Regions from separate parts of the Homo sapiens genome. Here regions 2, 3 and 4 are each linked to region 1. Evidence: fine-mapped expression QTL. A gene starts in region 1. Each other region holds a variant in brackets. All regions are shown on one strand. Distances are from middle to middle.

Region 1 (8,109 bases):
CCAGACAATAACAGGAAGCTGCAGCATCGTGAGATCTTTCTGGCAGCTGGAGGAGGCCTTTGCCAAATATTCCCAAGCACCCTGCCAGGAGCTGCTCCTGAACACTCTGGGGCTTCGTAGCACAGGAACATGCATGGCTGCAGGAGGGCGCACTTCCTCCAAGCACCTGTCCTAAACAGGATGCTCTGAACACACAGTGGCTTTCTGGGAATCCCACGTCCTGTGCAGCATCTATAGTTCTGGGCCTCTATTGTTTCACAGCATGGAAGGCAAACAATAGAAATTATTTTTAACAATAATAAACAATTTTTTCTTATTTTATTATTTTAATTCAGCCTCCATAGAGACTGTCAAAAATGACTAATGCTGACTATATTGCAATTCTATTATTATTACTGAAATTAACATTTAGTGGATGCTTTTGTGTGCCACTATACCAAACACTTTGATATGCACGTTCTCATTCTTTAAATTTATTTTTATCTTTTTTTACAATTTTTAAAATTGAGATAGGGTCTTGCAAGTTTGCCCAGGCTGGTCTTGAACTCCTAGGCCCAAGTGATCCTCCTGCCTCAGCCTCTCAAGTAGCTGGTACTATAGGCCCACACCACCATGCCCAGCCAGGTTCTCATTTAGTTCTCATAATCAATACTGCCCTTAGACACACGCAAGCAGGGCCCCTGCCCTAACCCCATTCCTTCCTCAAAAATGTCTAAGTGCGCTCTGGTACCTGGGATCGCTGGGGCCAGCAGTGCTGTCTGGATGGGGAATCTGAGCCTCCTCTTCACAGATCTCTCTAGTGATCCTCTGCATCTCTCCCATACTGTGCAAGGGGTTGGCCAGATGCCCCAAGGAGCCCCAGGAGTCATGCCAATGGGTTTCTTGGGGCCCTGGAGCTGGCTCCATTCTAGGGGACAAGCCTAGCAAGCAATCACTTCCTCAGGCTGGTGTGGCATTTCTTTCCCAAGACTGAAACAGATTGAGCTGTTGACACACTGCTTTGGGTGACTCAAATTGTTTATATAGACAGGAGCCCTACAAAAAAAATCTGCCCAGGGCCCCATCTACTCTAGGGATAGGCCTGCTCAAAGCAATCCTATAAGGTATGCATTCCCTGCCTACCTTAGGGACAGAGAAACGCACTTGGAATCACTAACTTCCCAAAGTAACACATTTAGTGAGTAGAAGAGCTGGGAGTCAAATTCTGGAATGTCCAACCTCAAAGCCACACTTAACTAATCTCCCAGATTTCCTTATCTGCCTCCACTAAGATATGGATATCCCAATGATGATTACCTTTCCTGTATCCAGAACTCTCTCGGATACTGTTAATTCTCTTGTTCCCAAGTGAGGGAATCTGCTGATAAGTCATTATCCAGCATGCTTTCATTAAACTACAGCTTACCTGGCTTCCCCTTGCCTTCCTGCCTTCTCCTCCCAACAGATCTTATCTCTTTCAAGAGCAACAGTGGCTCATTCCAAAAATATCTGATTTGAGTCTGTTTGAGTAGAAACATTCCATAGAAGCATCGAAGTCATTCAGAATAAAGTGTTAGCTCCAGCAGAAATCTACATGTTTCATTTTTATTCCTATTTGTGGAATAAAACATTTTTTCCTCAATAAAGGGATTCTAGGTATCCCCTAGTATGTGGATCTGATTTTTGAGGGAGGTGTCATTTGCTACAATAGGCATACTCAGCTGGTTCTGAACAAAGTCTTCTTAGCAGAGCTTGTAAGGGGACTGGGCAGAAGGCATGGCTTCTTCATCCCCGCTCCCTGCTCCCCTAAAAAGGAATGTGCCTGGAATCATGAAGAGAAGACTGTTAAGAGTAAGAGACAAGGAGCTGTTACCATCAGCAGCTGTCGAAGTCGGTATCCTGTCTTGCCTGAGCACTGATCTGCTTGTCAGCCCTCTCTGTCCCAGCCAAAGCTCTGTATAGGCACAGTGAGATACCGCTTCACACCCACTAGGATGGCTAGAATAAAAAAGTCAGATAAGGCCGGGCGCGGTGGCTCATGCCTATAATCCCACCACTTTGGGAGGTGGAGGCAGGCAGGTCACCTGAGGTCAGGAGTTCCAGACCAGCCTGGCCAACATGGTGAAACCCCATCTCTACTAAAAATACAAAATTAGCCAGGTGTGGTGGCACATGCCGGTAATCCAAACTACTTGGGAGGCTGAGGCAGGAGAATCATTTGAACTCAGGAGGCAGAGGTTGCAGTGAGCCGAGATCACGCCATTACACTCTAGCCTGGGCAACAAAGCAAAACTCCGTCTCAAAAAAAAAAAAAAAAAAAAAAAGGCAGATAATAGCAAGTGTTAGCAAGGATGTGGAGAAACTGGGACCTTAATATGCTGCTGGTGGGAATGTAAAATGGAGTAACTGCTTTGTGAAATAATCTAGAAGTCCTTCAGAAGGTTAGACATAGTTATTATATGACCCAGAAATTCCACACCTAGGTATACACCCAAGAGCCCTGAACATATCATATGTCCACATAAAAACCTGTATATGATGATCCTTTTGATGTGTTCACACACGCGTGTGTGAGGTGAGCCACCCTCGAACCTTGTTATGACATTGGCACATTACCCATCTGACACGAAAAAAGAAAAAAAAACCTTGTATATGGATATGCATAGAGGCATTATTCATAAAATCCAAAAGTTGGAAACATCCCAAATGTCCATCAGCTGGTGTAAGCAGAAACAAATTGTGGAATATCTATACGGTGAAATAGTATTTGGCCATAACAAGGAATAAAGTACTGACACGTGCTACAACATGGGTAAACCCTGAAAACATGCTAAGTGAAAGAAGCCATAAACGAAAGACCACAGATTATAAATTCCATTCACATGAAATATCCAGAATAGGGAAATCTAAGAGGCAGAAAGTAGATTTTGATTTCTTAAGGCTGAGAGATGGGGATGAAGAGGTTGGGGTGGGGAGGCGATAGCTAAAGGGTACAGGGTTTCTTTTTGAGGCAATGAAAATATATATGTAACATATCAGTTGCATACTAAAACTCGCTGAACTATAGACTTTAAATGGATGAATTTTACAGCATATGAATTATAACTCAATAAAGCTGTTGAAAGCTGATTGCAACAAAACAGAACATCTTAACTCCAGTACTTCAGCTAAACTGAATCCAATTCAACTCTGGCTGTCCAAGAATGACGAGGAATGCGTTATGCTTCCTGGCTTATTTGACTTAACTTCATACATTCGTAGGGACCATGGTTAATTGCCTTCTGCTTCCTGTACCAATTCTAGGTCTGACTTTGACAAGGTGTGAGCAGTTGGGTAGGTATCATCTTCATTAACAAAGGCACCATGATAACTTCAAAGTCTGAAAACTCCCAAGTGCAATAACTCTATCCTCAGAGTGGGCCTTCTCCACCTCTTTCCCAGGCAGAGGGATGAGTGACACGTTTTAATGAGCTTCACTGAAAAGAAGCCTCAACAAGTTCTCTCAATATTAAAACACTTTCTTTTTATTTTATTTCTTTTTTAGAACATTTCACAAGACGAGCCCTCCCTACACAGTGACACAATTTGGACCTCAACTTTACTTATCTTTTGCTAGCCTCCATCTCCCCCCTTGAATATTTCCTTTCCATTCATCCTTTGTCATATGAAATAATAACATCTACAGATAGAGATCTTTCTTTTCCATCATACTTCCTATTACTGACAATTATTCATACCAAGTTTGGAAAGAGATACATTTGTTACTGAAGATCATAAAATCCTGGACAAAAATATCCTTGGGATTTAGCTCCGTAGCTACACTTATGTTACATTCTCCATCTCTCCCACCCTCACCCCCATTAATTATATATTAAGGATAGTGTTTCCTTTGAAGAACACATTACAGAAGAATGATCTGGATAGTACTCTCTTAATTACGCCAATCACAAAACACAAAACCATGTCCAGAGAGGGTTATTTTACTTACCAAAAGGATCAACGCTGTTACATACACGCCCACGTGGGCAGTAGTCCTTGGGACAGAGATACAGCAAATGAGTGATAGTGGCACGCCTATGAGCGGTGAAGGAGGTCCCAGAGACCCTCCGGTCCTCAACAATCAGTCTCTTTCTGTTCGAGCCCCTGGCACTGGTTCTCTCAGATGAGGTGACTTTGCTTTTCTCAGAGCTGCACAATTTCCCCAGACACTTTAGACCAAGGAAGGCAGGCATCTTGGCATGGATTTCCAAGCAATGAGAAATGGGGAGTGGGGACCCAAGGAGCGGTGCTGCCCCACAATTCTCTCTGTTCCCCTGGCTCCTTACTGTCTCCTTTTCTCACTGCCCAGCAAAGAAGATTAAGGGAGATGTATTTAAGTGATTACCCTCAAGAGCTTAGGGCACCATATTCTCAGTCAGATGACTAGGTATAAAAACAGCCACTACCAGGAACTCGAGACTTTCAGTCTCAGACATGAATGCATATTTGAAAATCAGATTAATATCCAGAATAAGAGAAAGAATATAACTGCAATATCTAAAAGAATTCTCCTGCAAATACTCCTAGAATATTCAGTATCATCTGGTAAGAGTACTGAGAATAGGGCTAGGGATATATACACATATTTTATATAATCTAAAAATGTCTATCAGAAAAATCCCAGGGTAATAATTCCAAGTTTTCCAGTATTTCAGATCTCACAGGTGGAGGTGGGGAAGGCTCGATAAAGATCCTCAGCTTCAATTCGTGACAAATCCAGCTCTCAGCCATAGTAAACGATCATTTCCTTTCCATTTTCTAGAAGGGGACCCCTCCCCTCAGTACCAGGAAAATCCTTCTGCCTCATTCCATTAAGCCAATGTTTACTGTCGTAATGTTTCATGGGTTTTCTGTGATGGCAGAATCATATGATGGAGACAGAATTAACATGTAGGTAGCTTCAGCTTTACACAAAGTTACAAGCTAGAAGGACCTTCATGGAATTAGTGTATTGATATAAAAAGGACAACCCCAGTAATTATCATTTACTCTTTAACATCCACACAGTAAGATGCAGTACAAAATGTGACCGTCTACAACCATACAAAAGTCCCAAGTCAAAATGAATAAACTCACACTCCTTCTCCTGTCATTGGGCTATTATGTTCTAATATAAATTCCTTTTCATTAAAACCCTAGAATAGAATTATAGAGCTGACAAGGCCATCAAAGGTAATCTAGTCCAGTAGTTCCCAAATATTGCTGTGCATAAGAACCATCTGCAGGTGCGGTTGCTCACGTCTGTAATCCTAGCACTTTGGGAGGCTGAGGTGGGAGGATTGCTTGAGGCCACTTCGAGACCAGCCCTGGCAACATAGCAAGACTCTGTCTCTACAGAAAAAAAAAAAAAAATTAAAACATTGGCCAAGTGTGGTGTCATGCATCTGTAGTCCCAGCTACTCGGGAGGCTGAGGCAGGAGGATTGGTTGAGTCCAGGAGTTTGAGGTTACAGTGAGCTATGATTGTGCCACTGTACTCCTAGGTGACCGGGCAAGACTCTGTCTCAAAACAAAAAATCTGTAGAACTTTTGAAAAATACAAAATATATATATACGGGATTCTTGCACGTAAAGGTCAGGAACTTACATTTCTTTTCTTTTTTTATACTTTAAGTTCTAGGATACATGTGCACAATGTGCAGGTACATATGCATACATGTGCCATGTTGGTGTGCTGCACCCATTAACTCATCATTTACATTTCTAAACATTCTCCCAGACTAGTGCCAGCACTCAGGAAGCACTGATCTACGCCAGCCTTTAAGATGAGGAAGGTGAGTCTCAGAGAAGATGTGACTTTCTCAGGACAATGCAGAGAGCCTAGGGTGGAGCCGGGTCTTCTGCCTCCCATGCTGACTCTTCCTATCCAATAGTCGGGTCCTTCCACAAAGGCCCCAGGCAGATGAAGCAGAGAAAGGAAATTCTTGCTTCTTTTGTTACAAGTTCCTAATCTATTGGCAACACAATTCAAGAACCTGAGAATTCCAATTTGCTAGAATTATTCTATGCCAATGTGAAGCACGGTGGGAATGGAAGAAACAGACGCTGTCTAGAGGCACTCAGACTGAGGTGGACTTGGGGAAAGTGGGAACATGGGACTTCTACCACTACTGAAGTCACACCTCAAAATTTCTGCTCCAAAATTCTGGGAATTAAGCCCAACACCAACCTCCAAAGTCTTCCTCTAAAAACAGTTTACAAAGCAGGTCAAACAATCTGTATGTGTTCTTTTCCCTGTTTGCCTATTTTGAGGAACCTTCAGATATACAATGTAAGATGTTCTATCAATGTTTCTCAAAATGAGGGTAAGGGATAAAAGACTAAACATTAGGTGCAGTGTACACTGCTAGGGTGATGGGTGCACCAAAATCTCAGAAAGCACCACTACAGAACTTACCCATGTCATCAAACATCACCTGATCCCTCCAAAACTATTGAAATTTAAAAAAAGAAAAGAAAAGAAATACAACTGGAAAAAAAAAAAGTGGCATTCATCCATCAAAAAAAAAACCGTATTTCCCAAAATGTGATTTCTGGGCCAATTTGTTTAAGATGGAGATCCCCGAGGGCCACCTCAGCCCTACCAGGTTCTTCTAGAGTGTTTTGTAATAAACATCGTAGTGTGGGAACCCCTGCCTTTCATTGTTAATTCTTTCTTGCTGGGTTTCCTGGAGCTCTGCTCTTTGCAAACTGAGAACCTGAGCAGCTACTTGCTTATATGTGCTTACATGGTCTTTTTGTGAAATATAGATGTGTTTATATAGAGGAACATGATACAGCCACTTTGAAGGCAGGCTCTGGAACACAGTAACAATGCACAAACACAGACTTTGGACAGAAAAGAGACTATTTCCTTCAAACCCAGCATCTTCCTGACCTGGAAAAAAGGTAACTCTTCCATAACAAAGCTGTTCGGCTTTCTTGGTCCCTAAACTCATCAAGCATTGCCCACAAAAACTATTTCCACTGCATTAACTCTACCTCAGTGCTTAGCCATTGTAGCTGCAGAGCATGCACAGAACACTCCTAAATTTTTTTTTTTACAAGTTTACAGATCCATATATTTAGTTCAAGATGCAACTGTCTTCTAAGAGACTGCGAAAAGGAAAAGAAAATAAATTCTTATTCAATAACGGAATTATACGTAAGAATTTTGATACTTTTTTAGGTCAAGATGCAAAGCAAACTACATATGGATCATGAAGACGGCTAATGAGAAAAACAAATGGTTGCTTGCTTTTAAAGACAACCGAACTACATATAAATGTGAGGGGGCTGACTCCATTCTCAGGCAGTGGAGAGGGATGAGAGTTCAGATGCTGGCAGCAGTGACTGCAGACACCTGTGAACTAAGTTCCACTCCCCAAGTGCTCAGAGCTTTTCACTTACCCTCCTCCACATGGCTCCAGTTAAATACCTAGCAGAGGCCAAGCCTCCAGTCTTAAAAATAGACTTGCAGTGGTATCTGCCTGACAGCAACCTCTTCACCCAGGAAAGCACAGTTGGGGAAGACCCTAAAGAAGCACCAGTGGATTCAGGTCTTTCACTGCTGCCTTCTGCCACAGCCCACATAAAACTACAGTCACAGCAATCACAAAGGAGTGCAGTGGGTTTTGTGACCGTTTCTATGGTTCTATGATATGATATCACAATGCACCACATTACAAAGCTAATGATAATTACAAATGTTGAACTTCTGCCCAAGATTTTGCTGGCCTGTGTATCTTATCAGATAGGAAATTCCTAATCTTTCTAGAAGCAGTTCCACTGTACCTACTCAAGCTCTTCTATGATAGACTATGAAAATGAACCATCAGTGGGAAAATTCACCAAGGGGCACTGAGGACACCCAGCCTTTGCATGCTGTAGGAGCTCAATAAACACCTGATGTGATGAGCCCCAGCCCAAAGCCAGGTGTTTTGGGGCTACACAGTGCTCGGCGAACAGATGCCTCAATTACTGCTCTTTCTTCATCAGTCACAGTGATTCTCCACAAATGAACATGGACTTTATTCTATATAGTGATTTAAGTCTTTTTTCTCAGACAAGTATCCCCTCCCTGCTTAAATCATCTGCTAGGATCTACTTGCTT
Region 2 (8,109 bases), 200 kb before region 1:
TTTTAAGTAACCAGAGTACAGATCTACACTAAATGGGCAGTAAGATATTCCAAATATGGGATCTGTGTCTATTACTGAGTCAAATTTAGATTTCTGGCTTTTGGTTATTGGTGTTCTGAAACTTTTGTCTTTTCTTCTCAAGAGCTGGTTTAGCATCCAGACCCAAATATGTTATAATGTTGACTTTATTATTTAAGTCATATATTAGTTCCTAAAAATTATGAAATATCATCCCAAACTATTGATCTATTAAAAAGCTAATTTATAAAAATGTTATCTCATTTATCCCTCTCCTAAAGAGAAGTAACTAGTTCCTATCGGGAAAAAATGAGTATAAAAAACACAGAGGAAAACAGGGGAAGGAAGATTATAATTTGCATTTAGAAGGAAATAGTGTTTTAAACCTGTTGCTGAATTAAAACTTGGTCTCATTTGTCATCATCAGTGCTCAGGGTATCGCCTGGCCAGGAGTAAGTGCTTAATAAATGTCTGTGAATGAATGATTGAAGGAGGCCAATTAATTACCTCCACAGCTATTTATTGGCCTAATTTAGCAAGCACCATGGCAAGATTCACCATCAATTTTCTCTAAATTAAAGGAAGCCAGATGCTAGTGCAATAAGTCCTCACTTAATATCAACAGGTTACAGGAAACTGCAACTTTTTTTTTTTTTTTTTTGAGACGGAGTCTCGCTCTGTCGCCCAGGCTGGAGTGCAGTGGCGCGATCTTGGCTCACTGCAAGCTCCGCCTCCTGGGTTCACGCCATTCTCCCGCCTCACCCTCCTGAGTAGCTGGGACTACAGGCGCCCGCCACCGCGCCCGGCTAATTTTTTGAATTTTTTTAGTAGAGACGGGGTTTCACCATGTTAGCCAGGATGGTCTCAATCTCCTGACCTCGTGATCCACCCGCCTCGGCCTCCCAAAGTGCTAGGATTACAGGCGTGAGCCACCGCACCCGGCTGGAAACTGCAACTTTAAGCAAAACAACATATAGCAGGTCCTTGAAGAACGTCGTTTATTTCAACCTAGAACACTGATGAGGGGAAAAACTAGTTTTTTTAATATTTCAATTCACTTAAGTCACAGTTTCCAAGTAAATGATGATGATAAGTAAAGACCTGTGTACAGCACTGGGCTCACAACAACACCCCTTTTATAAGTTTCCCATTACAGCTAATCTTTGACAACTCCAATATAAATGTTTCACTGAAGAAAAATGATTTAATCCTATGAACATTAGAAATTAACAAGAGTAATCCATAACTGAAAAACAGAATCATTCTTACGGTCTTTTCTCGAAAGAAGGTATAATGGGTCTCAACTTTTACTACTGCTTCTGAACCCCCCTGCCCCATGCTTTTGTTCTTTCACATAGACCTCCACTGTCCTTGCAGAAAATCAGATGTTTCCAGGAAAGTTCTCGTAGGTTTTGGTTATAATACACAATCAAATGAACCCCCATTAAATCAGTTTTTATCATTATTAGCCAGTGTCACGCACACACAAAAATATCTGCATATGCAGGACACAAACTTTAAGGTTATTAGAATTAGACATTTGTCCAGGGATTAAAATATTTCTATCAACAAGACCCTGTGTTGGCCAGTGCCTGTAGAAGCCCCTCACTTCTTGAATATGGTCAAAGCCTCTCAAAGGTTATGGAGTAGCTGTCTGAATTCCCAAGGACTGGATTCTGGCTGAATGCTGTCACCAGTTGGGTGTGGTTCTATATTAGGCTGGATGTCTTCAGCAAACATTCACCTCTCTAGTTGTTTTTTTTTTAAAAAAAAAAAAAAAACACTACTTTGTTCAAATTTTGTAAGCAGATGTAACTATAATCATTTAAAACTTCCCACAAAGCATTTTTAAAAATCAGGTAAAGAGAGACCCAATAACACACCCATCTCAGCAATTCTGCAGAATGTGCTTTTCACATATCACAACCGCTCATCGGGGAATAAGTTCTTGGAATACATAATGTTGCTAGGTACCAAATTCTTAGCCCTTGAAATACCAAAGGCATGACAAATTTTGGGCATTTTTAAAAGAAAAAGGAAAATTCTCAGGAAGAGGCCTCTTTCCCTTTTCTAAATTAAACACCTTATCTGTATTTATTTTTATTTTTATTTTTTTTTGAGACAGAGTCTTGCTCTGTTGCCCAGGCTGTAGTGCAGTGGTGCAGTCTCGGCTCATTGTAACCTCCGCCTCCCAGGTTCAAGCGATTCTCCTGCCTCAGCCTCCCAAGTAGCTGGGATTACAGACATGCGCCACCACATCCAGCTAGTTTTTGTGTTTTTAGTAGAGACGGGGTTTCATCATGTTGGCCAGGCTGATCTCAAACTCCTGACCTCAAGTGATCTGTGGCGCCTTGGCCTCCCAAAATGCTGGGATTACAGGCGTGAGATACTGCACCTGGCCAATACCCTATTTAAATGATATAACTTTGAACCCAACCCTGGCAGGAAATAACTTATGGGGGCCCTAAGAGGCCATCTGTGCATAGTTCCTTACTTAAACAAAGTAATGTGTGACACACCAGATGAAATATCATATTTGGAAGATATCATTATTTTCATCATCATCGTTGTCATCATCTATCAACCCTGAATAAGATACTGTTTAAAAATAATAGGCCGGGCATGGGCATGATGGCTTATGCCTGAAATCCCAGCACTTTGGGAGGCTGAGGCGGGTGAATTATTTGAGGTCAGGAGTTTGAGACCAGCCTGGCCAACATGGTGAAACCCTGTCTCTTCTAAAAATACAGAAATTAGCCAGGTGTTGGTGGCAGGCATCTGTAATCCCAGCTACTCAGGAGGCTATGGCAGGAGAATTGCTTGAACCCGGGAGGTGGAGATTGCAGTGAGCCGAAATTGCACCACTGCACTCCAGCTGGGGCAACAAAGTGAGATTCTGCCTCAAAACAAAAAACAAAACTACTCTGTGTGTGTGTGTGTGTGTGTGCGCACATAATACAATAGTACATATATATATATATATCACACTCATAGCTATTTTGTTCCTTTAAGTCCTCAGATTGGGCTACCCTAAGTTGTTAGTGTTCTCATCTATTGTAGTGACAAGCTACTATATTTCTATTTATGTTTCTATTTCTATTTCTTGGCCTTCATTTTTACCTCCTTTCCTGTTAGCCTAGTAAGCTAATTTTTTAGACCTCAGGGGAGCATTCACTCACAGGACTCTCACTGTACTTAACACATTTAAATGCCCATCTCCACTTTCATTCTTCTTTTTGGCACCATGAGAGCCCGAGTGACTAATTCTAAGACAAGCGAATAGAGATGGGGGTGTGCGATTCTGCTGTGGGGACCTGTTGGAGCACTGCCTAGCTTTCTGGACTCAGAGTGCTTACATCCCCAAATATAAATGAACATCTTGAGGGAACCTTAAGATAAGTTGGCAGCATCCAGAATTTTGTGACAGTTTTAAGATTGCCGGTTCTTGTCTAAAG[C/T]GTCAATAAGAGTTACGGTTTCCTTCAGCAAGTGTCAAATATATATTTACATCATGGCAACTCATATTTATAGCAAAAGAGGAAAGATTCCTTTCAAAGAAACTTAATATATGTAACCCTCCTGCTCAGAAATCCAATTTATACTTCATGGACACAGAATGTCATGTCTAGCAGTATTTCAAAGGGGAAGCAAGAGAAACTTAGCAGACACTTTACAAACGAAGCCCGAAACAAAGCGAAAATGGTTTTTCCAAATCTCTAGGCATAAGGTTGTCCAAATGGCCCAAAGATATACTAAGATAGAATGAGGCTACAAGGAAGTTTGGAGGACAGAAATAAAAATACACCCAACCAACAATGGATGTTATGGAAAATGAATGGGGAAGCCAGTGAAGGAGAGAAACAGTCTGTGCCGTGCATCTCAGCTTTACAACCATGCAGGCGTCCTCAGCTCAGTGAGGCCCCAGGCCTGGGTCACATGCTGCAAAAACAAGGAACAGGAAGTGGACTTGGGCAATGGAAGGCTGGGCTTCTGGCTGCCAGAGTGGCAAAGGGCGCCCCCTGCCTCTGAGATGGACATCCTACCTTAGGTCAAGCTCCCAGCTCACATCCATTAAAAACAAAACAAAACAAACAAACAAACAAACAAAAACTCCCTCAAGTTCCAAGACAAGCTCCAAGATAAAAGTCAATGAAGGGCCACAAAAAACCCTGGAAGACATTGACTTATCTCAAAGATATCTTGGATGTGTTATCAATGGCCATAGGCTCCCCCCATTCAGAAATTTCTAAGTGCTGGAGAGGTCTTCCATGTAAATGGATGCATGTTTTTCAAAATAACTAAGACGTAATTCCTTGGAGAATCCACATTTAGCCAAATACACTAGGCTTTTAAAGCAATATCTTTAATGTACAAAATCTCCACCACATATCTTTTTTTTTTTTTACACTGCTCCCTGTGGAGCAGGACTGCCCAATAGGCAGTGTGCCCAAAGCAGCCAATGATTTATCTTTAAGGTTGGCAAAAAGCTCATATGATTGAAAAACTAAGTATATACTGTTATGTACATTACACTTTGCATCTGAAGCATAAAGACTATTTCATATGAACAAACTATAGGCACACGTCTAGTAAAAAGAAAAAGGGAGAGAGACTATTAGATGTTTTTAAGTTCAGGGTCACTAATTCCTTTTGGATAATGCTTTTTATCATTTAAATCCAGAACACCTGACGGTGTCAAACACTTCAAATGCAGACTGAAAACAGAAAAGAATGTATATCTACATTTTTAATAAAGCACCATTTAGGAACATAGGGGTGTTATAATTTTTATAACCATTTAATATTTCTATGGAAAAGTAAATATTTCTTAATTTTGTGATCTAAATGACTGAGGATCATTCTTGGTCTAAGAGTCAATAAGAATGCAATTTTCTGGCTAAAAGGGATGAAAAATAAAAGTGTGCTTTAAAAATTATCTTCACACATATTTATACTGAAACGCATGGCCCTCATATGAAGGAGCGTTCCTGGGGAGGAGGGGGCCTGGGTCTAGTCCAGCACTGCCATGTCCTAGTGGTGAGCCCCTGGACAGTTACTTAGCCAGGGCCTCTGTACTTGGTCTCCTCACTGAGCCCATTTCCCAAGAATGCTGTGAAAAGTGAACAGAATGATGGCATCAAAAATGATTTAAGGTCGGGCGCGGTGGCTCACGCCTGTAATCCCAGCACTTTGGGAGCCCCAGGCGGCCAGATCATTTGAGGTCAAGAGTTCGAGACCAGCCTGGTCAACATGGTGAAACCCCGTCTCTACTAAAAATACGAAAATTAGCTAGGCGTGGTGGCGCACGCCTGTAATCCCAGCTACTCAGGAGGCCGAGGCAGAAGAATCGCTTGAAGCTGGGAGGCGGAGGCTGCAGTGAGCTGAGATTGTGCCACTGCATGCCAGCCTGGGCAACACAGTGAGACTCTGTCTCCAAAAAAACAAAAAAAAGCAATTTAAGAGCACCATGCTGACCAAGGTGGGTGTGCCCCACACCAAGACACTTCACCTCGTGATGTAGGAGTCTCATTGTTCTTGATTTATAGAGGAGTCAAGTGACACTCAACAGGATAAATAAGCAACCCAAGGTGATACAGCTAGCAAGTGACGGAGATCATATCTGAACCCAGATTCCAATGCCCATGGGCTTTTCAACTCTCCACATGGCCACTCATGGACATGAAGCAGTATTAGTCATTGACCATTTATGGACACTTTGTGCTGTGTTATTTGGACAAACTGTGTAACTTTATAGGGCCTGTGACACTTTTCTTTCTACAAAAAGTATCTCTCTACAAGTTAAAACATATAATAGCCAAGTGAGGAAGTTTACATTTTAATGAATCAATAATGCATTTTTTCTTAAATATCAGAAATAACCAAAATCTTTGTTTTCTTTCTTTTGTTTTTTTTTTGAGACAGGGTTTTGCTCTGTCACCTAGGCTGGAGTGCAGTGGCTCGATCTCAGCTCACTGCAACCTCCACCTCCTGGGCTCAAGCAATCCTCCTGCTTCAGCCTCTGAGTAGCTGGGACTTCAGGCACGCACCACCATGCCCGGCTAATTTTTTTTTGTATTTTTGGTAGAGATGGGGTTTCGCCATGTTGCCCAAGCTGGTCTTGAACTCCTGGGCTCAAGCAATCTGCCCACCTCAGCAGAAATAACCAAAATCTTAATTTGGCTAATGGCTGTTATATTAAAGTCTCTTTAAAATACACAACTGAAGGGTTTTTTTTTTTTTTTAAGAAAAAAAAACAGCATAATTTCTTTATGATTTTATAAACATTCTCTAAAGTATAATCTTGACATTTTATAAATAAAAATTTTCCCCCAAAATACTAATTAGCACTTATAATTTAAAATAATCTGTCGGCTGAGCATGATAGCTCACGCCTGTAATCCCAGCACGTTAGGAGGTCAAGGCGGGTGGATCACTTGAAGCCAGGAGTTTGAGACCAGCCTGGCCAACATAGTGAAACCCAGTCTCTACCAGAAACACAAAAATTAGCTGGGTGTGGTGGTGCACACCTGTAATCCCAGCTACTCAGGAGGCTGAGGCATAAGAATCGCTTGAGCCTGGGAAGTGGAGGTTGCAGTGAGCCAAGTTTGCACCATTGTACTCCAGCCTGGGTGACAGAGTGAGACTCTGTGTCAAAACAAATAAAAAATAAAAAAATAAAATAAAGTAAAATAATCTGTCAAGAGTTTTAGAGAGTGTTGCACCTATCAAAAAATTTGCTAATGGCAAATGGCACGTGTACCTTAACTCCAGGTATGTGTGTCTTTGATAAGCATGATTGCTTCAATAAGCAATATTATTTTCAAAACATAGAGAATGCTGAAATTAGCAAATTTATAAAATCACTGCATACTGATAAGTACAGTACATGTACCTTTTAGGATTCAGCCGCTCAACAACCAAGTGAGCACAAAGAAAAAGCTTCGGTAGACTGACAACGAAAATTCAGTAAACCAGAACAAGCTCCTCAATGGAAGCATCAGGGCCATGACACATGGAGCAGCACATGGTTAAGAGTCCTTTAGGACTGTTTTAAGACCTGTGATAACATCTGTGCTTGCCTCCTCCTTCCTCCTTCAGCTATTATTATTGGTTTATTTGGTTCAAATCAAGTTCGCACCATTCTGGGAACTCCTACTTAATTTTAAATTATGACCCCTTTGTAGCCTCTTCAGGGTTCTCGGCTCCCCCAGTGTGGAGAGTCCCAACTGAGGACGGCTGCAGAAGCATTGCCGACAATGATGAAAAAGAAGGGATGGGGCAGAAATGTGAGGCAGGAACAGAAAACAGAAGGCAAAGCCTCTCTTCTGCATCATGTGGGAGTTAGGACAAATCAAAAGATGACTGCTCTGAGAGTCGGCTCAAAGAGAAACATTGATGTTGCCATAGATCTTTTAATGCTGCCCAAACATGTTAATATGGTCATGGTTTATCACCGGTAAGACAACTTTTGGATATCTGTTACTAAACACTGTCGTGTTTTGCTGAGACACGTTGCGTATTGAACCCAGGAAAATATTCCAATTATATATATTATATTTTGTTTCGATGCATCCAAAAACAAAATAATAATATATATATATATATTTTCTTTTTTCAAAGTAGTGGATAATAAATCTTATGGTCTTAAACATACTTCCTGCTTCTTCATCTAGAGCCCTTAGAAGTGACATATTTCTCCCAATGAGAGATGCTATGCCCGTTCTAAGACAACTGTTGGGTATAGTCATGACACACGCAGGCATGCTGAGAGCTCAAAAGCTCGGCACTAACTCTTGGAGATACACCTTATTAGCCTTCCCAGGGTGCTAATAAATCTCCACTATGCAGGGTGCTGCCTGGAGAAACCTGCCTCCTTACCTTTGATATGGGGAATGAAGTGGTGTCGGAAAGGGGGGTTGGGGCGGGAGTCGCTGTGGGTGGGGCTGAGGCTGCTGGTGCGCAGGTACGACAACCTCTGCACACCAGGAGACAAAAGCTCTGTGCAGCAAGGAGTCAGGGGCAGGGCACGGTGGAAACAGAAAAGAAGAACAGAAATTAACACAGGAGCAGGGAAAGTGCCATCGTTCCAAGGGA
Region 3 (8,109 bases), 140 kb before region 1:
CCTTGGCATTCAATACCCTCTGCAGTCTGGTCTCAATCTACCTGTCCAGTTTCATTGCCTACCTGGTATCCACACCCTCATCCATGCCTTGGCCATGTGGGCTCTGCGTCAGCCTCAAATATGTTAACCTGCCTGTATTAGTCCGTTCTCACACTGCCAATAAAGACATAGCTGAGACTAGGTCATTTATAAAGGAAAGAGGTTGAATGGACTCACAGTTCCACATGGCTGACACGGGGAGGCCTCACAATCATGGCGGAAGATGAAGAAAGAGCAAAGGGACGTCTTACATGGCGGCCAGCAAGAGAACTTGTGCAGGGGAACTCCCATTTATAAAACCATCAGATTTTGTGAGACTTATTCACTACCACGAGAACAGCATGGAAAAGACCCACCCCCATGATTCAACTACCTTCCACCAGGTCCCTCCCATGACATGTGGGAATTATGGGAGCTACAATTCAAGATGAGATTTGGGTGGGGACACAGCCAAACCATATCACTGCCTATACCTTCCCACATCTTAAATTTCCTGAGAGAAGCTACTCTCAAACTTCTCTGTGCATTAGAATCAACAGGGTAGTTTTAAAAAAGTATAGTTGCCTGGGGCCCCTCTAGAGAAAGTGATTGCAAGGTGTAGCCCAGGTTGAAAACTTCTAGACTGAAATGAGCCTTCTCCAGCTCCCCTGGACTTAGGCATTTTCTTTGATTTGCATGTATTTCTTGACTTGAATATACATTTATATATTCATATAAAGCACATGCCATTTATATAATGCAATGAATTATAACTGCTGGCTACCTAGCAGATTTTTCCCCACTAGACTTTAATTTCTTGGGAACAAGGACATTGTCTCATTCATTTTTTGTATTTCCAGAGTCTAATGGGCGTTGAACACATATTAGGTATTTTTTTGTATAAAATAGTCTATTTCATATAACAAAATACCAATGCTCCAAGCTTCTACTGCTACCTTCTCTAGGGATTTTATTTTTATTTTATTTTATTATTTTTTTTTTTGAGACAAGGTCTCACTCCCATTACCCAGGGTGGAATGCAGTGATGCGATCTTGGTTCACTGTAGCCTTGACTTCCTGGGCTCAGGTGATCCTCCCATCTTAGTCTCTTGAGTAGCTGGGACTATAGGCATGCACCACCATTCCCAGCTAACTTTTTGTATTTTTATTAGAGATGGGGTTTCACCATGTTGCCCAGGCTGGTCTCAAACTCCTGGGCTCAAGGGATCACCCGCCTCAGTCTCCCAAAGTGCTGGGATTACAGGCCTGAGCCATTGTGCCCTGCCACAGGGTCTTTTCAGTCTTAGCTGAGTGTGTTCCCTCCCTCCTCTGTGCTCCTACAGCATTTATTTATTCTGTTAAGGTAGTGCCTTGAACTTATCAATATCTTTGAAGTCTTCCACTAAAGTTTAAGTTCCATTAAGGTAGGGGTTGTCTTTTTATAATCGCACATTATAAGTATAATTATATAATCAGTTAACATAGTACAAGAATGAAATGTTAAATTCTTGTTTATAGAATCAATTATACCTCAAACTAGTATACAAAAAATGTAAGTTTATCACTGAGGAAAATTCTAACGTCACAGAACAATGGCAGAACAAATATTTAAGAGCAAGATGTATTGCTGAATCCACGAGATTTTATTCTATTCTAAGCAATGTTTTTCATTTTAATTTTTTTTATACCCTTCTCACCTCTTTAAAAAAATTTTTTTTTGAGACAGAGTCTTGCTCTGTCACCCAGGCTGGAGTGCAGTGGTGCAGTGTCGGCTCACTGCAACCTCCACCTCCTAGGTTCAAGTGATTCTCATGCCTCAGCCTCCTGAGTAGCTGGGACTACAGGCATGCACCACCACACCCAGCTAATTTTTGTATTTTCAGTAGAGACAGAGTTTCATCATGTTGGCCAGGCTGTCTCAAACTCCTGACCTCAAGTGATCCACCCGCCTCAGCCTCCCTAAGTGCTGGGATTACAGGCGTGAGCCACCACACCTGGCCCCTTCTCATGTCTTTCTAGAAAAGTCCCATTTCCTATCATTTTGTTCCCAGTGTATATTTTGGCAAAGACTTGTTCTAATTCTTTCAGTTTGCATCAAACAGGTCATCTGTAGAGACTAGTCTCAACTCTCAGCAGAAAAGCCAACTGTCCATATTCTCCAGTTTCCCCTTCCAGCTGTTCGGAGCATCATTAAGTTTAAAGACCTCTCTTTCCTGTGGACCCAGAAGGTCTTGCTCTGCAGTTCCCTCAAACTTGAACACGGTGGCATCACTTTCTCATCAACAAACAATCTCAGGTGGACAGATGCTCTCTCAGTGTCTTCCTGGAGCAGAAAGACCTGGATAATCCCCATCCAAGACAAGTCAATTTCCTTCTGTCCAATTAGGACAGTAAAGCTGCTTGGTACCACTTCCTTGCTGCAGGCCAGTCGTGCTGAGCACAAGATGACTCAGGTGAACTTTCCTGGGGGGAAGCTGCTTATTCCAAAAGTAATGGGTCTATTAAAGACAGGAGCCCAAACAAAAGGATGTTTTTTTCCTGTGCGTAAAAAGGGCTGAAATTAGCGAACTGGGGAAAGAAAATGTGTTACAATCCAATGCAATGTGCACTCACGGAGTACCTCTTATTCACTCGTGACATGCTGATTCCTCTGGGGACCAGTCTGCAGAGAAGCCAAAAGGCTTTACGTAGGAACCTTATTCATCTTTGCATTCTCGAAGTGTGCAAATAGTAAGTGGACAATAGACATTCATTGAGTGAAAGATCCTGCTTCTGAATCCAGAGGAAGGGACAATGTCTAACTATAATTCAAGGGGTCAGGCAGGACTTCACGGAAGATATAACTTGTAAATTGGGATTAGAAGGATAGCAGAATCCAGGCCAGGTGTGGTGGCTCACGCCTGTAATCCCAGCACTTTAGGAGGCCGAGGAGGACGGATCACTTGAGGTCAGGAGTTCAAGACCAGCCTGGGCAACATGATGAAACCCTGTCTCTATTACAAATACAAAAATTAGCTGGGTGTGGTGGTGTGCACCCAGAATCCCAGCTACTCAGGAGGCTGAGGCAGGAGAATCGCTTGAACCCAGGAAGTGGAGGTTGCGGTGAGCCGAGATCGTGCCACTGCATTCCAGCCTGGGTGACAGAGTGAGACTCCATCAGATAGAAGGAAGGAAGGAAGGAAGGAAGGAAAGAAGGAAGGAAGGAAGGAAGGAAGGAAGGAAGGAAGGAAGGAAGGAAGGAAGGAAAGAAAGAGAGAAAGAAAGAGAGAAAGCAAGCAAGCAAGCCGAATTTTGCTTTTATTACTTATATACCAAAACTCGAGAGTTTTTTCCTATCACTTACACTATAGTCAAGAAGACAGTCACCTGTACTCTCCATCCATCCTCCTCCATCCATCCTCCCTTTCCCCAGCAAACCAAACCAAACCAGACCCAGAAAACCTAAACCTTTGAGAAACTTACCAGATACTTTCTCACCTAAAGTTACTTTTCTGTGTAATTTTTCAGGTACAACAATCTGCTGAAAATTCATTTCTTACCCCTTGTACATTTAACTGATAAACGTGATGAATTTAGAAAGAAATGTGATGAATTTAGAAAGAAAGCATATCAGTTCTTCATTCAGAAATGCAGCTATCTTAGGAGAAAAATGTGTTTCAAATGTCCGCAAGATATGCTATAATGGCTCAGAACAGGAAGAAATTAGCTTCATTTCAGTAACAGCCAGTATTCTACCACCTCTTAAATCAAGCAAAAACATTTATCACATAAAAGAAAATAAAAAAAAAGAAACC[C/T]CACTGGCAAGCAACATCCGGCAGTAACAATTTCACACTCAATTTATCCTGAGCAGGTTAATACCACACTGTGGCAATTTCATCTAGTCGACATGCTTCAGCTCACCCCTTTCTAACCTATTGTAAATGACCAGCAATCAAAGCCCAACTTGGTCTGTGTGCTGGTATGCTCAGGGTCAAGGTGAATTCACCTTGGTGGCGGGTAGGAGCAAAGGGTATCCCTCATAAGCCAGGAATGAAAGAACCACCAAATGAATTCTTAGTGCTTCCTGTCTAGCACAGAGCTAGTAGATACAAGCAATCGATTTTTCCATGAAAGGTGTCGATGCCAACACTACCAAGAAATCTATCTTTTGCCAGAGAGATAGCAAGGATTTAGTGCCCCTGCAAATTCTTATTGACTATTAAGATGTGCCAAGTTTGGGTCATACTGCAAATTTCCAAGATACATATACTCCTGAAAATATCATCCAAGCCTGCAAAGTTTTCACATGACACCATCACTCAATGACTATACTCAAGGAATAACTGCATCTGTCCTACAGGCTCCACAAGCATCACTTTTAGGATCTACAGATTAGTTATCTCAGGTAAGTTTCTCTACTGCTGCTCACCTAAGACTCACAGAATAAAAAAGTTGCTTTCCGATACTAGCTGGAAGCAAACATAATTAAGTGAAATGAGGCCGGGTGCAGTGGCTCACGCCTGTAATCCTAACACTTTGGAAGGCCAAGGTGGGCGGATCACTTGAATGGGAGGGGGAAAGGGGAGCCGGAGATTGCGGTGAGCCAAGATCGCACCACTGCACTCCAGCTGGGTGACAGAGCGAGACTCTGTCTCAAAAAAAAAAAAAAAATAAAGTGAAATGAGCATTCTGAATTATCAGCTGTTTTTGTAATTTCTGCAGTCATTCCTTTGAATTATTGCTTTTGTGAGACAGGGTCTCACTATGTTGCCCAGGCTGGAATGCAGTGGCGTGATCACAGCTCACTGCAGACTCGACCACCCGGGCTCAGTGATCCTCCCACCTCAGCCTCCCAAGTAGTTGGGTCTACAGATGCATGTGCCACCATACCCAACTAATTTAAAAAAATTTTTTTTGTAGAGACAGGGTCTCCCTATGTTTCCCAGGCTGGTCTCAAGCTCCTCGGCTCAAGTGATCCTCCTGCCTTGATCTCCCAAAGTGTTGGGATTACAGGCGTGGCCACCACTCTCAACCTGAATTAATTTTTATAGTTGAAATAAAACTGTCTTTTCTTGCAGACTGCATGAAAACCTATGAAAAGGTATTCAAAGTACAGGAAGCAGGCCTCCCACAGGCCATTTAGCAGAAGTTAAGACTATTTCTACACTACTGTGATTCTTTTTGGAAGTTTAAAAGCTTCAGATTGAAAACTAAAAAAGAGAGGAAAAGCGCCTGTCATTGAGACCTACCCACCATGGTGTCCTTTGAGACTAAAGATTAAATTATTAGTATAGTCACCATGAGTTTCTGCCCAAATGCAAATGCACTGACCTTCCAGAGAAATGAAAAATCTAACACAACTTCTGAGGAGATCTCCCAGAACCTGAAAGCAGTTTAGTCCAGGTCAATGCAGCAGGGGATGGGTGAGAAGGAGCGCGTGCATAAAATCACATTAAAGGTAAGTCATGACAAGGGTCATTTAAGTGACACGTGACTGCAATGCTGCATTCGAATTAGGTTAGTTCTGAGATTCACACAAATTGGGCCAGCTACCCTGAGCTCACAATTCCCGCAGCGGCCATGTCAAGGCTACCCTGCTTTTGGTGTGCGGCAGTGGGATCTTTCCCCAAATCCAGATGTGGAAGCTGCCATTCCCTCCCGTGACCCTCTCCCTGGCCACAGTGAATGGTCTAGAGCTGGAGAGGTGACATTCCGATGGAATCTCTTCCTGGGACTTCAGGATGTGAGCTGGGGGTACAAGAGCCCTTTCCACCATGGTTGAGAATCCCTGAGCTGCAGCCTTATGCTTTTCATGCAGAGTGAGTTCGTGAGTGTGAATGACACACACAGATAAGCAGACAGAGCTGACGGGATGCTAATGACATCTAAGGCCCTGTCCCCTCCAGCGGCTTGGCTATGTGAGCCTCTTTTCTGCTTCAGCTGATGTTACTGGTTGACTTGTGTCCCCCAAAAAGATATGTTCAAGCCCTAACTCCCAATACCTCAGGGTGTGACCTTATTTGGAAATAGGGTTGTTGCAGATGTTAATTAGTTGGAATGAGCTCATACTGGAATAGGTTGGGCTGTTAATCCACTATGACTGATGTCCTTATAAGAACAGAAGAGGGAGGGAGACAGACAAGGAGAACTCTAAGCAAAAACAGAGGCAGAGGTTGGTGTTTTGTTGCCATAAGCAAGGAAGCTGGAAGAGGCCAGAAGCTGGAAGAGGCCAGGGTAAATCTTCCTCTACCGGCTCAGAGAGGACATGGCTCTACCCACACCTTGATTTCACCAGCCTCCAGAGCTGTTGGAAATTAAATTTGTCTTTTTTAAAACATCCAAGTAGTGGTGCTTTGTTATGCTGGCTCCAAAATACAGCTGGTTTGAGGTGAGTTTCTGTCCCTTGCGACCAAAGCCATTGTCTAAGGGAGTGAGGTGAGCAGGTATCAATTTTAAACATTGTCTAAGGGAGTGAGGTGAGCAAGGTATCAATTTTAAACATTGTCTAAGGGAGTGAGGTGAGCAGGTATCAATTTTAAACATTGTCTAAGGGAGTGAGGTGAGCAGGTATCAATTTTAAACATAAAAAATGTTTTGCGGCCAGGTGTGGTGGCTCACACCTGTAATCCCAGCACTTTGGGAGGCCAAGGCAGGCAGATCACTTGAGGCCAGGAGTTTAAGACAAGCCTGGTCAACGTGGCAAAACCCTGTCTCTACTAAAAATACAAAAATTAGCCAACCATGGTAGTGTGTGGCTGTAATCACAGCTACTAGGGAGGCTGAGGCAGGAGAACAGCTTGAACTGGGGAGACAGAGGTTGCAGTGAGCCGAGATCGCATCACTGCACTCCAGCCTGGGTGACAGAGCAAGACTCTGTCTCCAAAAAAAGCCAAAACAACAAAAACTGTTTCGCATCCAAGTACCCTGTGCAACACAAAAAACAGCTGCTTCCTTAAAGAAACTATTGAAAACAGATCACAAACCCAGCCACAATTCTTTATTTTTGCATTAATATAACTTTCTCCTGAGAAATAAAACAAATAGATGGTGTTGGTTTTGTGAGCTTCACACTGGATTCAGTCAACCTTGGAAACTCTTTGAAACAATAATTAATGCCAGTTAATCACAGGGAAAGGCTGCCATTCAGCTAAAACTCTCAGGGCTTACAAAAGCACATTTTTCTTCCTCTGTTTCCTTTCAGTTAGACTATCAGATATGCAAACACTCTTCTCATTAGCCTCTTATTTTGCTGAATTCAGTAAGAAATTTCCTAGAAGACTTGCAGTTCTGGCTGGTGCTTTTCTGGGACCTGCGATTAACTAATAGTAGATGCCATTCCTTGGGACTCCGTTTTTTTTTGTTGTTGCTTTTTATCCTCAAAGAGCAGGGCTGTTGATTACGACAAGAACAAGGCTTTTGCCCCTTTCCTCACCTCCAGGAGGAAAAACCTGAGAGGGAAGAGCAAGCACTCCGATTTTTAGATGGGAGGGCATGGGCTGAGTTGAACTGTGGTCCCCCAAAGATATGTCCAACCTGCTTTGCAGATGTAATTAAGGTAAGGGTGTTGAGAGAAGGCCATCCTGGATTCAGGTGGGCCCTGAATCCAATGACAAGTCTTTACAAAATACAGGACAGGACGGGACCAGACAAGACAAGGAAACTGACCAAGAGGGCAAGCTGGACCCACATGAAGATGAAGGCAGAGACTGGAGCGATGCAGCTCCAAGCCACGCAGCACCAAGGATGCTGCAGCACTGGAAGCCAGGGGACAGGATGAAGCAGACCCTCCAGCAGAGCCCCCAGAAGAACCCCCACTCCACACCGACAACACTTTGATTTCAAACTTCAGGCCTCCAGAAATGTGACAGAATACATTTCTGTCATGTTTGAGCTGCCAAGTTTGTGGTGATCTATGATATCCTTAGGAACGAATTCAAGGCATCAACGACAGCGCATACTTTAAAGGGCGGGGAGGGGGGCCACAGTACAATGTGGGTCTGTACTTTTTTGCGATAAACTGTGTTCACAGCAGGACAAAAAACTTGGGATTTTTAGGATTTCACAGAAATTGCCTCATAATCAACCACAATGTTGAAGCTAAAGTTTGTCTGA
Region 4 (8,109 bases), 120 kb before region 1:
GTTTCACAGGGCCTTCCTGACTGTCCATTGAGCTGCAGAGTCCGAGACCAGAGCTTCATGAAGAAAATATGCTCTCAAACTTGAGACAGCATCATCCATCTACAACATTCTCTAAGGGCAGAGCCAGGTGGCCTGGTGGAGGCTACAGATGCTTCAAGGAGGCCAGACTATGAGGCACAGAAACACAGCAGACTCTATGAGCAAAGTCACTGATTTTCAGTGACATTTTACACTGGTAAAAAGTAAACCAACCAAGCAGTACATGTTTATTGTCCTGAGAATAGGTATAAAAGGGACACTGAGACAGGCCTTTACCATCCACCAGGAATGGTAACTTTTGGTCCTTCAGCAAGTTATATCAAGGGGCAAATTATTTGTTTTCTGTAATGATTATTGTCAGGTAGATAATAAAGTTCAGGCTCACTCTCTCTCTCTGTCTCTATGTGTGTATGTCCCTATCTTCTGAGAATTGAAAGAGACCTATTTTCCTTATTTTTTCTTTTATTGATACATAATATTTTACATATTTATGGGGTTCATATGAGTATTTTTTTACATGCATATAATGTATAATGCTCAAGTCAGGGTATCTGGAGTATTTATCACCTTCAGTATTTATCATCTCTGTCTCCCAGCTACTTTGAAATATACAGTATATTGCTGGTTAACTGTAGTCACCCTAGTCTGCTACTGAACATTGAACTTCTTTGTTCTAACTGCATGTTTGTATCCATTCACCAACCTAAGAGATCTATTTTCTAATCATGGTTCTGTCACACCAATTAGATCCAGAGTCTCGGGCACTCAGTAGCCTCATCTGTAAATGAAGGTGACTAGTAACTAACTGCCCTGACCAGCTTGCAGGCCTGTGGTGAGAATTAAATGTTTATGAGATCACTTGCAGATGTTAAAAATATTATACAAAGTCAGGATACAGTGGTGGCTTACTGTCCACTGGGACAGACCATCTCAACCAATATACTCAGATAACAGGATCAGATAACATGATCCTCAAAAATATTTGGGTCTACAATTAATTAATTGGATGAAAGCATGAATTCCTCTGAGCACAGTGAGAATGAGAAGAATGCAATTAGCCTTCAGCATGGACACGGGTTATTATTTGTTCCTTGCAAGTGTATGATATACACAGAACAAGAAAAGGGGAATTGACATGTCAGCTTCTCTTTTGCAAATTACATCTCTGATGGTGACAAAAAGATTAGATGTCATGCAAGCATCCTAGGATAACCTATGTTTTGCTCACTAGAGAATAGCTTAGCCCAGAACAAGACCTACTCACTGCTTATGATTACTGCCACATAACATACTTAAAATACCTATGCCAAAAAGAAGGAAGGGGACAAAGGCCTCCAATTTATAATGTGAATTCACCTCAGAAACATCATAAACATTTGCCCCTCAGCTTTGTGAAAAAGCAGTTTTTTAATCAGTCCAAAAGCAAAACAAAACAGAGCCACCAGTTTTTAATTCCTCTGAGAGCCAAGGAAAAGGATTTGGCTGAATCCCATTGTGATTCCATTTCCTTCACCCCAGGAGTTCAGCAGGAGGGGTCTAAAAGCGAGTCTAAATCCTGTCCTGCTGTCCACCCTTTCCAAGTTAACAGATAAAGACAGGGGAGGGTGGCCTCGTAGGGCAGAATGGACAGGCATTCCAGGGTCTAGAGGACTTCCCTCGGCTCCATCTGAGGCTCTTTCTTATGTGGTGGGTGTACAGGCTGTCACAGACATCACTGCACGTTCCCAGAGAGCACAGGTAGCACAGTAAATACCACGAGACACAAGGACAGGTGCCACCAGCCCGCCCAGAAAGACTAGATGAACCCAGGCCAACTGATTTCTGGGTGCGGTGATGTGAGGAAAGGGAAATCGTGGGACTCAGAGCCCCGCCCTCTCCCTCTGTGGTCAGAATGCACATAAGACAACTTTCCTTTCAGGGAGGAGAACAAAAGAATGCTCCCGTGCAGCCTGGCAGGTGCCTGCTCAGGGAAGTACCACTCTGCAGTGTGGGACGAGGGCCGAGCGCCTTTGTCCTGAGTGAACCAGTGCAGTGCTCCATGCACACAGGTAGCCCCTGGGGGCATAGGAATTGCATAAGACAGCTTGAGAGGCCAAGAGAAAGTCAAGCCCACCCTTCCTTAGTCTGTTGGTAAAACAGCCCAAGACTAGGGGAAGAACACATGGGACAAAACCTTTTCCTTTACCCTCCAGGCTTCTGTTTTCAGTTTGACTTTTGCTTTTTTTTCCAAACACTTGTCAAGAATAGATTCAACCTCTATCTAATCCAAAGAGGTATGGGGCTGGGCGCAGTGGCTCACGCCTATAATCCCAGCACTTTGGGAGGCCAAGGCGGGCAGATCACCTGAGGTCAGGAGTTCAGGACCAGCCTGGCCAACGTGGTGAAACCCCATCTCTACTAAAAATACAAAAATTAACTGGGCATGGTGGCGTGCACCTGTAATACCAGCTACTTAGGAGGGTGAGACAGGCGAATCACTTGAACCCAGGAGGTGGGGGGTGCAGTGAGCTGAGATCATACCACTGCACTCCAGCCTGGGCAACAAAGCAAGACTCTGTCTCAAACAACAACAACAACAAAAAAGAGGTATAGGAAGTATTACATTAAGAGTGTGGTGTTCCAGAGAAGATTCCATATCTTAAGAAAGCACCATCAAAAACAATCTACTTTTAGCTATGTGCCTAGAGATGGTTATACCTTTGTAAACAGAGACCAAGAAACTCAGTTGCTGTCTTACTTAAATTTAGGGTTGGAGATATGAGACTAACCCCCTTATAAATTTGGGAGTCCTTACTTGATTACACCCACCATGAGCTGCCTTCATTTTGAAACTAGCTGTTGCTGTTGATAATAACAACCATTTTGTTGCTGTTTCTTTTCTTTATGAGGCTAGCAGGTAACCACCTGTACCCTGGAAAGGATGTCTGCTGGAGTGAGAGCTGTCCTAGGGCTATCTACCAAAGATGGGAAGAAATGCATTCCAAAGAGATGCCCCACTCCCCCATGACATTAGTGACCTAGGTCTGAAGTCTCTTCCAGCTTCCTGTTACCATTAGGCTGTTAGGCAGAAAGAAGGTGGGGGCAGGGGAAGGGGGAGGAGGAGGGGAGAAGGAAGCGGGAGAAGTTTGGAGAAAAGACGGAGAGAGCAAACTGGAGTATCTCACACTAATTTGCCCCTGCACTTCTTAATTAGGAGGCAGGTTGTAAATATCTTCAGAACTCTCCTAAATTTATAAGTTAATCAGCAGAAGCATTTGAAGATGTACCATTTATAGCAAGATCCCCCTAAAAAGAGAATCTTGCTGTCGAAAACAAAACTGAAAACAAGTGATGAGAAATCAAGCTACAATTTGAGTGTATGCTCTATGCTGAGTGTTACGTGCTGGTTTCCAGAAAAAAAGAACCATTGGTTCTGTCTGATCCCTTACAGCCAAGACATGAGAATTCTAGAACTCAGATCCTTAGAGCCGAAGGGACTCCGGGAGGTCTAGCAGCCCAAGTCTTGGAATTACACGTATATTTTCAATTCTTGCACTTAAAGAAAAGAAAACTGAGGCTCAAAGAAGTGGCAAGCCTTGCCCAAGGGGCCCCAGCTGGTGAGTACAGATTCAGATTGGCTGCCACCCAGAGCCTTTTCAACTGAGCCGCTGGTGCTCGGGCCCGTCTCCCCACCCGTTCAAGCTGATGTGATTTTCAGGGCTTACAAGGATTAAGGAATGACAGAGACAGAGAGAACTCGAGGGCTGCTGGAGGTTACATGCTAGTCCCTTTACCTGGGAAATGAAGACAGCCCCAAGAGGCTGAACAACCTGCCCCAAGTCACTCAGGAATGAGTGACACAGCCAGACCTGGAGCGTCTCTTCTCTATCATTGTCCAGTGACCTTTCTCTTTCTCAAAGGTCCCTCAGGTGTCTGGTGGCATCTCTGGTGACACCACACCTAGAGAGGCCTTAGGGTCCTCTTAGGGCTCAGTGAGTGTTAAATTAAAACCACACAGGGTCTGCAGGCCTCGCTGGGATGATACGTGCATGATTTCCCAGGCTTACTCAAGCAGCTTGAATGGTGACCCGATCATCACCAAAAGAGACTCCCTATCAATTCCCTGGAACCTGTGAATGCTAGCTTATTTGGGAGAAGAGTCTTTGCAGATGTAATTAAGCAAAGGATCTTGAGATGGTGAGGTCATCTTGGATTATCTGGGTGGGCCCTGAATCCAATGACAAGTGGCTTTACAGGAAAGAGGCAGAGGGAACTGTAACAGAGAAAAGGAGACAACACGCAAAAGGCGATGTGAAGACAAAGCCAGAGATTGGGAGGCTGCCACAAGTCAAGCAACACACAGAGCCATCGGAAACTGGGAGAGGCGAGGAAAGGCCCTTCACTAGAGCCTTCAGAGACAGCATTGCCTTGCCTGCACCTTGCTTTCAGACGTCTAACCTCAAGAACTGACAGAACTCAGTTTAAGAACTAACCTCAAGAACCTCAAGAACTGTTTAAGCTTGTTGCTTTAAGCCACCACTGCTACAGCTGACACAGAAAACTAATACATTTGTAAAGGGATAAAATAAATTCATCTGTGGATAAAATAAATATAAAAAACCCACAAAACCCCAAGGTTCACAGTATTTACAACAAATCCACCATCACAATATTTCACCACCACCAAGACCCAAGCATGAGAGGCCGAGGGAGGAGTGTGTGGAGACCGTCCTGCTTTGTGTTGGTAACCAAGCCAAACCGACTCACAAGCTGTCACACGTCAGTGTGATAACCCTGCAGGACGTTTTTCTAGCTCACACGCCCATCTAAGGACTACGTCTGCTGGGTGGAGGCTGAACATGGTGCAAACTACTCCCAGACGCCTCAACTCTGAAAGCCCC[G/A]CATGGAAAGTCTCCAAGTCTTAGGCCTCACAAAACGGCCTTCACAGAAACCTGAAGCCAATTTGAGAAGAGGTCTCTGCAGCCACAGTGAATGCCAAATGACTCAGGTCTTGAAGCAGAAAACAGAGTAAGCACATGTTTCTTCCAAATGGCATGTTCTTGGATCTAGCTTTATTTTAGATTTTCTTCCCCACAGCTGTTGAGCTAAATCTGAAGGGAATCAACACACACACACACACACACACACTCACACACTCAGACACACACACACACAGAGCCCTTTTCCCTCCCCAGCATGTTTTGGGGGAACACAGCTCCACATGTGGACTAAGAAGACTGCAAACACGGCTGTCACAAATGTGGGGACCACGTTCAGTATTTTCTCGTCTCTCTTTGTACAGCTGGACATCTGGGAAATCATTCTGATGTTCTATTGTTTCTTTTTATGAGGGCCAGGCTTGGTTGCTCATGCCTGTAATCTCAGCACTTTGGGAGGCTGAGGCAGGAGGATTGCCTGAGGCCAGGAGTTAGAGACCAGCCTGGACAATAGAGTGAGACTCCCGTTCTTTACAAAAAATAACAAAATCAGTTGGGTGTGATGGCATGCACCTGTAGTCCCAGCTACTCAGGGGGCTGTGCAGAAAGATAGCTTGAGCCCAGGAGTTCAAAGTTGCAGTGAGGTATGATTGTACCACTGCACTCCAGCCTGGGCAACAGAGCAAAACCTTGTCTCTAAAAAAAAAAAAGAAAGAAAGAAAAAAGAAAAAAAAAAAAGAAAAGAAGAAGATGATGATGAAGAAGGAAGAAAGATGAAAGAAGAAGGAAGAAAGAAGAAATTAGAAGGAAGAAAGGAAGAAGGAGGAGGGAGAAGGGAGGAGGAGGGAAGAGAAGGGAGGAGGACGAGGAGGAGGAGGAAGGAGGAAGAAGAAGAAAAAAGAAAGAGAAAGAAGAAGGAGGAGGAGAAGGAAATTTCCAAGTTGCCCCAACTCAACAGGTTTATTTCAGTCCTCCACAAGAGATCAAACTCAGGAATCCCAAGGGAAATGGCGTCAGGCCCCAATCAGGGCACTTCTGAGAAGAGCTCTCTGGGGAGGGATGAGGGATGGACTCAGGGCCAGGAGGGGAGGCACCAACCTCCTGTGCATCACACTCTGAGCGCTGTGATGGGACCGCTCGGACTCCAAGCTCCCCATCAGGTGGGTCCCATCCACCTTCTCCAACAGCCTTCCTGGGGATATGCTTCTTTCTCCCTGGTCAAGACACTAGTTTTGAAGTGTCCTTGGGTCAATAATTAAAGCTTTATTGGAAAGGCTATGAGAGAACTCTTTCCACCCTTCCTGTGTGTGCGGAGGGTGGGGGCCCATTTCTCAGGCTCCACTCCAGCTAGCACCACCATCATTTTGTGCCCAAAGTTCTGTAGTAGCCTCCTAGCTGGCCTGTCTCCACCCCAACTCCCTTCCCAGCCATTTAAAAAACATCTGAGCTGAAATGCACGTACTATAAAATTAAACATTTTAAAGTGAACAATTCAGTGGCACTTAGTACATTCATTCACAATGCTATGCAACCACCTCCTCTAATTCCAAAATATTTTCATCACCCCAAAAGGAAATCCTGTATCCATAAAGCAGTAATTTCCTATTTCCCCTTCCCCCAGCCTTTGGCAACTACCAATCTGCTTTCTATCTGTATGGATTTACCTATTCTAGATATTTTATATAAATGGCATCATACAATATGTGGCTTTTTGTGGCTGGTTTCTTTTACTTAAAGGCTCATCCTGTGGTTGGCAGCACTGCTTCAAGGCTGGATAATATTCCACTAGTTGGATACACCACATGTTGTTATCCATTCACCTGCTGATGGACATTGGGTTGTTTCTACCTTTCGGCTGATGTGAATAGGGCTGCTGTGAACGCGTGCGTACATAGATTTGAGAACTCTCATACGTTCTTTACACAACAACCTGGTCTAATCACATGACACTCCAGCTACAAGCAGTTCAATGGCTTCCTACCGCTTTTAGGGTAACACCCAAACTCCAGAATATGACTCTTGGGACCCTGCCCACTTCTCCAGCATCATCTGTCACATCGGTGCCCAACTGACGTTTCTTATGTATCCTGTGCTTTTCCTCACCTCTGAGCCTCTGCAGGTATTGCTCCCTCTTCCCAGAACCCTCTTCCTCGGGCTAAGAGGCAACTGCATTTGACCACAACCACACCCTTCTCTCCCAAATGCAATCAGCTGCCCACGTCCCAGCACACATCCAATGCTGGCCCCTCTGTGCTTCATGGAAAGGGTTTACAGTGGGATTTAGGGGGCTACACTGGGCCTTTGCTGTGAAACCCCACGGAAGAGACAGCACAGCCCAGAAACACCATGGTGGCGGGGAGGGGGGCCTCAGATCTGTGTCTGTGTCTCTGAAACGTGCCCTGCTGGGAAGGTGGAACATGGCTCCGTGGATTTAGCAGCCTGGTCCTTGACAAAGCAAGATGACAAGCTGCAGCACCTGTAGTCATCCCCCTAGTTGTGGGGCTTCCTGACCCACCTCTGCTTGGGCCATACTCTCCACGCTGGCAGGTGGGCCACAGATGAGGCAGTCTTACTTCTTCCTTGGACCTGGCTGACACCCCACAGGCCTGGGAGAAGTAGGGTAGCGACTCCTTCTGAACTCTGGCCCCAGAATTCTGTGTCTCACCCCAGAGGAACTGGCTCAGCCCAGAGGCAGAAGCCTGTGTGGCGGCTGCTGAGAAAGCAGGAAGAAAGCTCCCTAGCTGGAGGCGGTTGCACCTGAACTTGACAGGCTTCAGCTCAGCCCCGGCCACAGGGTGCTCTGGGTCACACAGGATGTGGTTTTTGAAGTTTGGGGAAGCCAATGCCTCTACCTTTCCCCCACCCTTCCTTTCTTAGCTTCCATTCTGAGCCTCTGCTCCCTGAATCTGCACACGCCCACAGATGCATGCATAGACATATGCACACATGCACACATGGATGTATACACACATGATTTCACACCCTTTTCATTTACTCTTGTCTAACTTCTAAAAATGAAAATGGTCTAATATAGCCTGTCCTACATAACTCCTACCAGAACCTTTATCATTCTTTTTTTTTTCCTGTGCAAATTCTCCATCATTCTAATTTCCACGTGAGCCTTTGAGGAGAGTGCAGCACCTTAATTCTTGAA

What was found.
Region 2: its variant is fine-mapped to the expression of ABLIM1 in whole blood (INTERVAL, PIP 0.91).
Region 3: its variant is fine-mapped to the expression of ABLIM1 in whole blood (TOPMed, PIP 0.98).
Region 4: its variant is fine-mapped to the expression of ABLIM1 in whole blood (INTERVAL, PIP 0.97).

The regions. Positions count from the first base shown.
Region 1 is chr10:114,653,990-114,662,098 of GRCh38, forward strand. ABLIM1 (actin binding LIM protein 1) reads right to left here and starts at 4,286. Exons shown (of 23, transcript NM_002313.7): 1 at 3,968-4,286. The coding sequence starts at 4,211. LOC124902588 (small nucleolar RNA U13) reads left to right here and starts at 2,506; the gene lies at 2,506-2,605.
Region 2 is chr10:114,455,152-114,463,260 of GRCh38, forward strand. All of the region lies in intron 12 of ABLIM1 (actin binding LIM protein 1), which reads right to left. Among named protein-coding and RNA genes, the nearest start is that of AFAP1L2, 55 kb to the left of the region's middle. RefSeq lists an enhancer at 4,789-5,290. The variant C/T (reference allele first, on the strand shown) is at 3,474.
Region 3 is chr10:114,509,647-114,517,755 of GRCh38, forward strand. All of the region lies in intron 6 of ABLIM1 (actin binding LIM protein 1), which reads right to left. Among named protein-coding and RNA genes, the nearest start is that of AFAP1L2, 110 kb to the left of the region's middle. The variant C/T (reference allele first, on the strand shown) is at 3,813.
Region 4 is chr10:114,536,758-114,544,866 of GRCh38, forward strand. All of the region lies in intron 6 of ABLIM1 (actin binding LIM protein 1), which reads right to left. Among named protein-coding and RNA genes, the nearest start is that of ABLIM1, 120 kb to the right of the region's middle. RefSeq lists enhancers at 4,396-4,445, 4,796-4,975, 7,447-7,556. The variant G/A (reference allele first, on the strand shown) is at 4,920.